Regions from separate parts of the Homo sapiens genome. Here region 1 is linked to region 2. Evidence: fine-mapped expression QTL. A gene starts in region 2. The other region holds a variant in brackets. All regions are shown on one strand. Distances are between the middles of the regions.

Region 1 (5,363 bases), 85 kb after region 2:
AGTGAGCCGAGATCCCTCTGCACTCCAGCCCGGGCAACAGAGTGAGACACTGTCTCAAAAAAAAAAAAAAAAAAGTATGGACGTTGTGCATTCTGTGGCAGCTACCCTCTTCTCTCCTGCTCAAGAAATCCCACTGAGAGGGACACAAGTGAATGAGAGGGTTGGTAGTTACATTTGGAAAATCTTTGACTTTGGTGTATATATGAGGTCAAAAACCATTTGCAAATGCCAGTGCTTCTATGGAGAGCAGAGACTTGAGCCCTGCCTCCCTCTGGCTTGCCCCACTGTGCTGGAGAACCTTGGACCCGGTCCCTTCTCCCAGCCAGGGCAGAGCCTTGGCAGGTGGTCCTCCAGCCTGCTTTTAATTGCCCCCATGACAGGGGACTCACTGCTGCTGGAGCCAGCCCCATGGCATTGTTCAATTTTTCCCGACCAGCTAAGATCAGCTCCCTTTGTCTGTGGTGTGGTGGCTGTGAGGTCCACGCATCTCTCCTTCTTTTCTTCTTTCTAGAATATGTCACGTTTCTGACAGTTACCCCCAACCTGACCAGTGTCTACATTGCCAACCACAGGCCTCTCTTCACACACTTGGGTGAGTTGACTGGAGGACTCCCACCCAGTTAGCTAGACTGCAAAGGTGCAGAGCACTGTTGCCAAGATGCCCTCACTTCTGACATCACCCGCAAGTTCAGGGGGTTCCCCAAACCACCCTCAGGCTTGATAGTTGACTAGGAAGACTCCCAGAGCTCACTGAGAGCTGTGGCACATGGCTGCGGCTCCTTCCAGAAGAACACAGGTTAGAATTGTCCAAGGGAAGAGATGTAGGCAGAGTCTGGGAGGGTCCAACCAGGAGGCCTGATGTCTCAGGGATGTGACACCCTTCTAGCATTGGAGCGTGGCCATACGCATGGAGTATTGCCCACACAGAAAGCCCACTGAGTGGGAGTTGAGAGTTTTTCCTGGGGTTTGAGTGCAAAGACATGATTGACTAATTGGCCAGGTGGATACTCTCAGTCTCTTGGTGACCCAGCCCCTATCCTAAATCACATAGTTGGTCTTTCTGGTACAGCCAGCCCCTGCCCTAAAGGAGGACACTTCTGCCTGGTGTGACCCGTGTTTCCTCTTGGAAGCCAACAGCAAAAGCTGGACTTCTCTTTGGGCAAGGCCCGCTTCTTTGCTATTGAGGGCCACAGTGGGTCTTTCTGGAGTGTGTCTGCACCTAACCTTTGAAGCCTTGGTTGCCGGCACTTGCCATGGGGTCCCTGAGCCCTGAGCCTGTTGAGTTCTGTGCGTGAGTGCACTTGGTCATAGCACTCACCAGGTTGTGGAAAGAGGCCTAGAGCCTCCGCTGTGGGGAAGCCTCTAGCTCAGATGCCTGTGGCTCCTTAGAGGAGGGCTGGGGACCCCGGGAAGGAGAGTCACTGACATGTGCCTGTGAGGAGGATGGGTGCTCAGCTCCACACAGCTAACAGGGCTGGTTCCCCGACAGCGGTGAGGATCGGAGGGCGCTATGTCGTGGCTGGGAAGATGAGCATCTCCCCTAACACCACCTACCCCTCCCTCCTGGAGGATGGTCGTGTCGAGTACAGAGTGGCCCTCACCGAGGACCGGCTGCCCCGCCTGGAGGAGATCCGCATCTGGGGACCCCTCCAGGAAGATGCTGACATCCAGGTCAGCAGGAGAGCCTGGGGGAGGCCAGTGGGGGCTTCTTCTTGGGGGCTATGGCTGCTTGCTCGTTTGTCTATCCATCCATTCCCTGATTCGTTCATTTATTCATTCAGCGGTCACTTACAGGGGACCCACTATGTGTTGGGCCCTGTGCTAGGCAAAATGTAGCTAGCTCCTCCAGGGGCTTAGGGTCCCACAAATATCCAAATGTGCCTGTGCCCAGAGCCCGTGGGAGAAGGCCCTGCAGTTCTGGGATCAGGTAAGGTTGGAGGGCCCAATGCAGGGGTCCAGGGCTCCCTGGGAAAGAGTGATGGAGCTGAGGTGTCAGATGAGCAGATGTTGCTGGGCCAAGCAGGGAAGGAAGCGTATGGCTGAGGGAACAGTGTCAGTGTGGGAGGGATGAAGGAAGGTCCTACTGTGTGGGTTTGTGGGGAGATGAAGGCATGGACGCAGGTGCAGTGGCATCTGGGGAGTAGGCCTTGGTGCTGAGGAAGCTGAGAACAGATGCTGGCTCTCACTGCTTCTTTGGTGCAGTGTGTGTGGGAACCGGAAGGCCTTGTTCAGGCGTGTCCTCAGTGACGTGTGCTCGCCCATGTATGTCCCCATTGGTGCTTCGCTGAGGAAGGCACGTGGAGGGTGGAGAGACATAAGCGCAGGCTGAAACAGACCTGAGAACCTTGGGAGAGGGGCCCAGTCTCAGCGGCCGGAGCAGCGTCCTCTGCCCCTACAGCAGCCAGAGACAGGAGGGCCTCCCACAGATCAGGCCAGGCCGGGCCAAAGCAAGCCCCTGTGAGCGGCTTATCCCTTCTCTTCCCCTGATATGGTTCCCTTCCTCCCCTCCCCTTGCCTGGGACATTGTATCCAGATGCTAGCTGCCGAGTGGCTCT[C/G]CCATCATCCTCTGCAGTGTGTAAAAAAGCAGATTCCCGGGTCCTCTGCATATTCCCTGAATCAGGACTTCCCTGTGTTGGGCCTGAGAAACCGCACCGTAACCAACACAGGCTTGCGGCACTGGCCAGATGTGGGCATCGAGGGGGCAGGTGCGGAATGTCACCTCGCCCTGGGCTCTGGCCTCCAGGCTGGCCTCTTTCTTGGGCTGGTCTTGGGCACAGGACCCAGTTACCCTCCTGAAGAGCCTTAGGCCCAGGAACCTGCTGAAGTTCTTCCTAGTGCTCTCCGGGCCAGTCCCAAGCCAGTAGCTGGCCACAGGTCCCCAGGGATCCAGTTTCTTCCTGCCGACCCTACCACAGGTCCCCAGGGATCCAGTTTCTTCCTGCCGACCCTACGGGCCTCAGCTCTGGCTCCAGAAGCACTTTCTGTGCTGGCCCTGCCCTAGCCCTTCTTGGGCTCCTTAGCCCAGCCTAAGGTGGGCCTGCCTCCTCCACTGCACTTTATCCTCTACCCAGCCAGCTTAGGGAACCTTCTCTGTGCTGCCCAAATACCCTATCATGTAACCCACCAATGACTTGGTAATTACCTCCCCGAGCCCTCTATCCCAACCCACTGAGAGCTCCTTGCAGCTCAGCCAGTGTCCTGTGCACTGTGCTATCCCCAGAGCCTGGTACAGGTCAGTGTTGGTGATTGCTTCCCGTTATTTTTGTCTTTGTTGTTTTTTTAGAGAGGGTCTCACTGTTGGCCAGGCTGGAGTGCTATGTTGCCCAGGCTGCTCTGAAACTCCTGGGCTCAAGTGATCTGCCTGCCTCAGGCTCCCAAAGTTTTGGGTTTACAGGCATGAGCTACCGTGCCTGGCCAGTGATTGCTTGCTGAACGAAAGATTATAGGGATGCAAGAAGAAGTTGGAAGGCTTCCCAGGGGAGGTGGCCATGACAGTGACCCTCAGGGAACCCACTGGACAAGGCCTGAAGCTCTTTGTCTGCAGGTTTACAGGCGGTATGGCGAGGAGTATGGCAACCTCACCCGCCCAGACATCACCTTCACCTACTTCCAGCCTAAGCCACGGCAGGCCTGGGTGTGGGCCGCTGTGCGTGGGCCCTGCTCGGTGAGCTGTGGGGCAGGTGAGACCTGGGGAAGGCTCATCCACAGCACGGCTTGCCCCTGCAGGGAGGCGGCCTAGCCCTCCCTCTTCCCTCCCAGGGCTGCGCTGGGTAAACTACAGCTGCCTGGACCAGGCCAGGAAGGAGTTGGTGGAGACTGTCCAGTGCCAAGGGAGCCAGCAGCCACCAGCGTGGCCAGAGGCCTGCGTGCTCGAACCCTGCCCTCCCTAGTGAGTGTGGTGCTGTCTGCGCAGCTCCAAGGGGGAGAGAGGGTTCCGCTGGGGCTGCTGGGCTCTGTCCCTGGCCTATGGGGCCCATGTGGCAGGGCCGGGCTGAGCTGCTCCTGTGCAGGCTCTCATTACCCCTGCCCACAGCCCTGCAAGGGGGGCTCTGTGAGTGCCCCCATTCTGCAGGTGAGGACACTGAGGCTTGGGGCAGACATGGTGACAATGTCAGCCCAGTGGGACCCACACCTGCTGCCACCTTGTCTGGGCCACCGAGGCCTCTCTTGAGCTCAGGTACTCATGGTGAGATGGAGGTGATTGCCTACCTGGAGGGTTGTAGGGAGACTTGCGGAGCTCCTGGTGCAAAGCCCCTGGCTGTCACCACACCTGACGGGGCACACTGTTAGGGACGAGGCCATTCCTGCTGGGTGCAGGACAGGGCAGCTGCTCACCAGCCTGTGATTCGGTTGTCCTCAGGCTCAGCCGTCTGGCAGCCTGGGAACACCTGGAGAGGCTAGGCTGGCCGTAGTGCCCATTGCTTGTCCCAGACCGGGGGAGTACATCAGCACCTGCCACCCCATCACCCCAGGCCAGCCTGGGACCTGGCCAGGGTCCCGACGCTCTGTCTCCTTCCTCAGCTGGGCGGTGGGAGACTTCGGCCCATGCAGCGCCTCCTGTGGGGGTGGCCTGCGGGAGCGGCCAGTGCGCTGCGTGGAGGCCCAGGGCAGCCTCCTGAAGACATTGCCCCCAGCCCGGTGCAGAGCAGGGGCCCAGCAGCCAGCTGTGGCGCTGGAAACCTGCAACCCCCAGCCCTGCCCTGCCAGGTGAGCCCAGGGCTAGGTGGGGCTGGGAGAGGGCCTTCCTGGCAGAGCTCGTCCCTGCGCTGAGCCCCCATCCTTCTGAGAATCCCCTCCTCCTGAGGCCTCCGGCGGGGCCTCACCATCCAGGGTGATGGGCAGTGTCACCTGGCGGTTGTAAGTGCTGCTGTCAGAGTTCCTTACTACCCAGGAGAGCCTGGGCCCATTGTTTCCCTCTCTGAGCTTCCGAGCCCCTGCTCTGAAATGGGGATGCCGACCTGCCTGGGGAGGGGGGGCTTCGAGGATGAGGTCAAACTGAACGGAGTGGGAGATGTCACTTTCTCATCACCACCATCTCCCCCGTGCCCACGTGGCTGCATCTCATCCCCTCAGTGTCCAAGTTGACAGTGGCTTATCATCCTGCCCTGCCACTAACGAGCTGAGTGACAGGGCAAGTCCCCTCCTCTGTGGGCTTCAGTTTTGCGACCTGTCCGGTGGGAGGGGATTGGTCTGGATTGTTGGTGGCCCACTCATAGCTCTGGACTCCTTTCCCCGCCTCGTCATCCGTGGCAGACAAAACAGTCACCACTCTTCCCCGCTGAGGCCAGATAGGGCCTCAGAATCCTTCTCACACAGCTCTCCAGGCAGCCACTTTAGCGCAGGGCTGACTCACAGCTGAAACC
Region 2 (5,292 bases):
TGGACTCCTCAATGAATATTTTATGTGAAATTTTAAAAAATATGTGGGCCAAAACCCCATCTGCAAGCCAAATCTGGCATACTGTTTGCTACCCTGAATGGAAAATGTGGCTGAATATACCTATCTCTGTAGGGCATATTCTAGGGAGAGAGCAGACAAATCATTCAGGGCACTTTTTCAAACGACCACCCTCACGGTGAGACCTACATTATCTGTCCTCAGCCACAGGGCCTTGGGCCCTGTGGAGGATAAGTTTACTATACCTGAAAAAAGGGTGACACCCAGGACTCAAAATAAGACTTTCCTCCATATGTCAGGAGGCGGTCTCAGGTAGCTTCACAAGGGCAGTCAGGTGTCAACAGCAAGCCCAACAGATGACTGATAATGAGAGCTCCCACCTGAGGTCAAGGCAGTGACTAAAAGTCCCACCAAAAGGGGCAAGCTGGCCAGCAGAAGCCAGGGCTCTGCTGTTGAACTCAAGTAAAACAGGCCCTAGGGGGGCAGCCATGCACTCACTCGGCTGGCAGAGGGACAGGCTCAGCCAGAACTCTGGACTCCAACTCTGCAATCAGGTTCAGCTTCCACTTCCGACGCTGGACCTACAGTGACAGAGCATAAGGCCAAGCAGATGGCAGCAAGGTCAAGGGCCCAGAGTTACGCACACCAGATGCCGGTCTTTACCTGCCATGTCCCCAAGCCAAAGGCAGTCACAGGGATGAGGAGCAGGACCCACTGAAGAAAGGAGTCATCTTCCGCTTTTGTGGCAGATGCTTCTGCTGCAGAACTGCCACATCTGCTTGGCCTCCAGGCCACCCCTGGAGAGTTTCACAACACTGACATGGAGCCAGAAGCCCTCGAACACAGACCTGGAGCAGCCCGTTCCAAGACAGACTCCAGTACTGCCAATCAAAACCTGCTGCCTAGAGCCAACTAGCAGCACCTGTATCCAGCCCAGCTCCTAACCCGGTGCCCAGAACAAGGCACACACAGTACGTCTGCCAAGTGAGTAAGTGGGATCTAGGGCTCAGTGCCGGTTTGACCACCAACCACGACCCTGAGTAACTCATGCCTTTTTACTCAAGAATCTAGATGTATTCCACTGCACTAAGATGCACCATTCATCCATTCAAAATGCATTTAATAAGCAGCTACAGTTGGCCGGGCACGGTGGCTCACGCCTGTAATCCCAGCACTTTGGGAGGCCAAGGCGGGCGGATCACGAGATCAGGAGTTCGAGACCAGCCTGACCAACATGCAGAAACCCCATCTCTACAAAAAAATGCAAAAATTAGCTGAGCACGATGGTGCTTCTGTAATCCCAGCTACTCGGGAGGCTGAGGCAGGAGAATCGCTTGAACCTGGGAGGAGGTGGTTGCTGTAAGCCGAGATTGCGCCACTGCACTCCAGCCTGGGCAACAAGAGCGAAACTGTCTCAAAAAATAAAAAATAAGCAGCTACAGTTACTAAGTAGCTTAGTCAGGCACTAGTGGTTGTTGTGTTATGTAGAAAAATATATCAATTCAGTAATGGCTCACAGAGCTCTCTTAACAGCTTTCCATTTTTACAACTCATCGTAAATGTAAAGAGGGAAGAATGTACACAGAAAGTGCCTTTAAGCTCTCAGAGGATGAGTTCCATCCGCTGAAAAGCACCAGGGGCCTTGCGGATACTATTTTTTTTTTTTTTTTTATAAAAAGGCAGGCCTGGGGCAGGCTTGCACAGCACTCTACACACGGCAAAACAGCCCTGTGCTGCACACTGAGAGGAACACGTAAGCCGCGGTGGTTAGATACGCTTTACTTTCAGAGCCCTGGGCTTTCAGCCTGGGCTGGCCACCCATTAGCTGGATGGGACGTTCGGAAGTAACTCTCGAGCCTTCTCTGTAACAGGGGAACGACCAAGGAGCTACCTCTCGCGTTGTGAGGACAAAGCGCTCGCTACATGCCCGGCACACGACCACAATTCCACTGAAAGCATTTTAATACGGAACTTGTCACTCCCAGGGAGCCTCCGCTCAGCCGGCAGTTGGTTCATTTCAATCCCCACGACAACCCTTCAAAGTGCAGGGCAGACAGCAGGTGGCTCTGCCCAGGCGCCTGGATCACAGCCCGGCCTGCAGCCCTCACCTGGGCGCGGGGAGACCCTGAGGACGCTCCTCCAGGCGGCGCTGGCCGGGGCCTGCGGACACGGACGGGCGGGCTGAGCTCCGGGACCCCTCCCCGCGCCCCGCACCCCGCACCCCGCACCCGGCGCTCACCCGTCCCAGCCCCGCCGCCCGCAGCCCCAGCTGCAACGCAGCCACCGCCGCCATCGCACCCGGCCCCGCGGGCGCTTCCGGGACGCAGGAAGCATCTGCATCCGGGGCGCCGCTGAGTCCCGCCCAGAGCCCCGCCCCCGGCTCCAGGTTCTGCGAGCGGCTTCCGCCGGGCTGCTCCGCGGGCGCGTCGGCCATGAGCGAGTTGCCGGGCGACGTGCGGGCGTTTCTGCGGGAGCACCCGAGCCTGCGGCTCCAGACGGACGCCCGCAAGGTTCGCAGCGCGGGAGGGGAACGGAGTGGCGGAGAAGGGCGCAGTTGGGATGAGGGGCTGAGGGGAGGGCAGGGGAGAGGAGAGGGCAGGGGAGAGGGGAGAGGGGAGAGCAGGAGAGAGGGGAGGGCAGGGGAGAGGGCGCGGCGGGATCAGGGGAGGAGAGGGAAGGGGGCGCGGCAGGAGGGGGCACCAGGGAGCGGAGCCCTGGCCCTCCTGACGTCCTGCCCGCCCACGCGTCCGCAGGTGAGGTGCATCCTGACAGGTCACGAGCTGCCCTGCCGCCTGCCGGAGCTCCAGGTCTACACCCGCGGCAAAAAGTACCAGCGGCTGGTCCGCGCCTCCCCGGCCTTCGACTATGCAGAGTTCGAGCCGCACATCGTGCCCAGCACCAAGAACCCGTAGGTGGTCCGCGGCGGCGCGGGGAGGCCCAGGGCAATTAGGACAGCCCCTCCGCTGGACTCCGCCAGTGCTGCAGCCCCTACTCTTTCAGAGTTGGGAGCCCTGGGACCCAGGTGGGCGCCCGGGTGCTGGAATCACCTGCGGTCCCAGCGGCGAGGCCTCTTGGTGAGCTCGTTTGCTCACCTGAGGTTTGTCCTGTGGGGTGTGGCTGCTTCCCAGATGAGTAGAGGCTTGTGATTTGTCACCTGAGGTTGTGAACAGCGTTGGGTTCTTCCCTTAACCCCAGAAGGGGTCTTTGATTTAGCTGGGAGCTAGGCTTTGTAATAATCGTCAAAACAGAGATAGGATGTTTCCATTCATTGAGCCCTTGCTCCAGGTGGAGCCATCCTCTTGCATGAACTCATCCTGGAGCAGTCAGTGAGGCTGCCATGCGTGCTTTTCCGGTAAACATTAAGAGGCTGCAGTCGGCCTGGGTCAGACGGTTCCCCACCCAGCTTCAGAGTGGAATTGCTCCGGGAGCCTTTAAAAGCCCGATGTCCAAGCCGCATGGTAGACTGTCCAGGGATGAGTCCAAGACACAGCCACCAGTCTGAATCCTTGCTGTGAACTGTCCCTACAAATTTGGTCTCTCTGCTCTGTAGGCACCAGTTGTTCTGCAAACTCACCCTGCGGCACATCAACAAGTGCCCAGAACACGTGCTGAGGCACACCCAGGGCCGGCGGTACCAGCGAGCTCTGTGTAAATGTAAGTCCCAGTGGACCCCCATCAGTGCATCGCCATCTGAGTGCATGCCCGCCTTGCCCCAGATGGAGCGTGCTTGAAGGCAGGTCGTCCTTCAGCGATCCGTGTTGATGCATCAGGCCTGTTTTTTGGCACAGTGAAGAGAGGGATGATGGCCCCTGACCCCACAGCTTTTAGTGCAGGCAGGCACAGAGCCAGAAGCAGGCTCGGGAGTGAGTGAGTGTGCGTGGCAATGCGAGGTGTGAAAGAAACTGGGCGAGGGATGTGGGGTGGGCTTGCGGAGACAGGAGGGCTGGGGAGACTCGCTGAGGGATTCGCTCGAGGCTGAGGCTGGAGGGATGTGGTGGCAGTGGGGTCGGGGGAACAGCACCCCAGGGAGAAGCCAGGGTCCATGGAAGTCTGAGGCAAAAATGTGTTGGCTGAGGTAGGCTCCAAAGGACTGGCTGGGCTAGTGTGCACAGCCCGGATGACCCAGAGACCAGGCCAGGAGCACTGCAGTGGGTGTGTGGAGAGGGTTGGGTGGGGGCTGCATGGACAGTGTGCATGGTTGAGAAGGGAGGACTCCTTGACTGCGGTCATCCAGGAAAAGACGGTGGGTTTTGGGGGGAGAATTCAGAGTCCCTTTGAAGGTTTTAAGCTTGAGCTGTATTAGGAAAGGTGTGTATTAGGGAAGTATCGGGCTTTTGAAACAGGGACACCCGTGCTGGATGAAGGAGATGGTTGCACCGTGGATCTGGGTGAGCACCCGGCGAGAGTTTAGAGAAGGGAGAGAGGCCTGGTCCTGAGCCCCAGGAAGAGGCTGGAAGTCCTCCCGTGGTACTGAAGGGAAGATGAGGACAGAAAAATGATAGATTTGATAACACAGAGGCCCCTGGCAACCTTGGTGAGGCACCTGAAGCTTGGCAGGGACACCTGGCTAGAGTGGAGCGTAGGCTGCAGCCCATGAGGGCAGTGTCCGGCCTTAGGCAGGTGCTGGGTCACCAGAAAGCCTTTCTGGAGTCCAGCTAAGGAGGGAAATGGACAGAGGCTGGAGCGGACAGATTCAGGTTGGTTTGCGGATGGGAAGATGCGTCTACGGGCTTCTGATGAGTGCGGAGAGGCAGTCCAGCCCTCCCGAAGCATGAGTGTGGATTGAGAAGGCAGGACCAGGGTTTCTCAAGTAGAAGGCGGGCACCTTGCAGAGGCCTTGCAGGCACAAGGGCTGCCAGCCTGAGGCTTGGACTTTTTCCAGCCAGTGTGTTAGCTGCTCAGGGGTGGGCAGGAAGGCTCTAAGTGCAGGGGGCCACGGGGTTCCCATGAAGAATGGTTATGATGGTGGACTGTGGAGCTGAGATGGGACTGGGGCGCCGAGGTCACTGCAAGGCAGTGGTCCAGGGAAGTCCAAACGTGGCTGTAAGGGGGCTCTGCCTTCACGTTCTGGTGGTGACAAGGCTGCTGCATGGCCATGGGGGTGGGTGGCAGAGACAAGGAGGGAAACAGCCCTGGAGATGGGCCGCCACATCAATGGCCAGGGCCCAGCAGGGCTCATGCAGCCCATGAGGGATGATGATGGTAGCTGCGCTGGGCTGGAGGGCAAGCCCCAGCAGACCCTCCAATATACAAGGGGACAACGGTGGTGACTCC

Evidence for each region. PIP is the estimated chance that this variant, and not a neighbour inherited with it, causes the effect.
Region 1: its variant is fine-mapped to the expression of SURF2 in visceral fat (GTEx, PIP 0.97).

What each region holds. Positions count from the first base shown.
Region 1 is chr9:133,438,855-133,444,217 of GRCh38, forward strand. ADAMTS13 (ADAM metallopeptidase with thrombospondin type 1 motif 13) reads left to right here. Exons shown (of 29, transcript NM_139027.6): 15 at 512-592; 16 at 1,490-1,671; 17 at 3,545-3,680; 18 at 3,760-3,889; 19 at 4,522-4,707. Among named protein-coding and RNA genes, the nearest start is that of CACFD1, 18 kb to the right of the region's middle. The variant C/G (reference allele first, on the strand shown) is at 2,556.
Region 2 is chr9:133,354,143-133,359,434 of GRCh38, forward strand. It overlaps SURF2 (surfeit 2), which reads left to right and starts at 2,408. Exons shown (of 6, transcript NM_017503.5): 1 at 2,408-2,528; 2 at 2,772-2,926; 3 at 3,569-3,672. The coding sequence starts at 2,451. It overlaps SURF1 (SURF1 cytochrome c oxidase assembly factor), which reads right to left and starts at 2,345. Exons shown (of 9, transcript NM_003172.4): 1 at 2,258-2,345; 2 at 2,127-2,178; 3 at 682-815; 4 at 517-599. The coding sequence starts at 2,311. RefSeq lists silencers at 2,147-2,266, 2,507-2,576.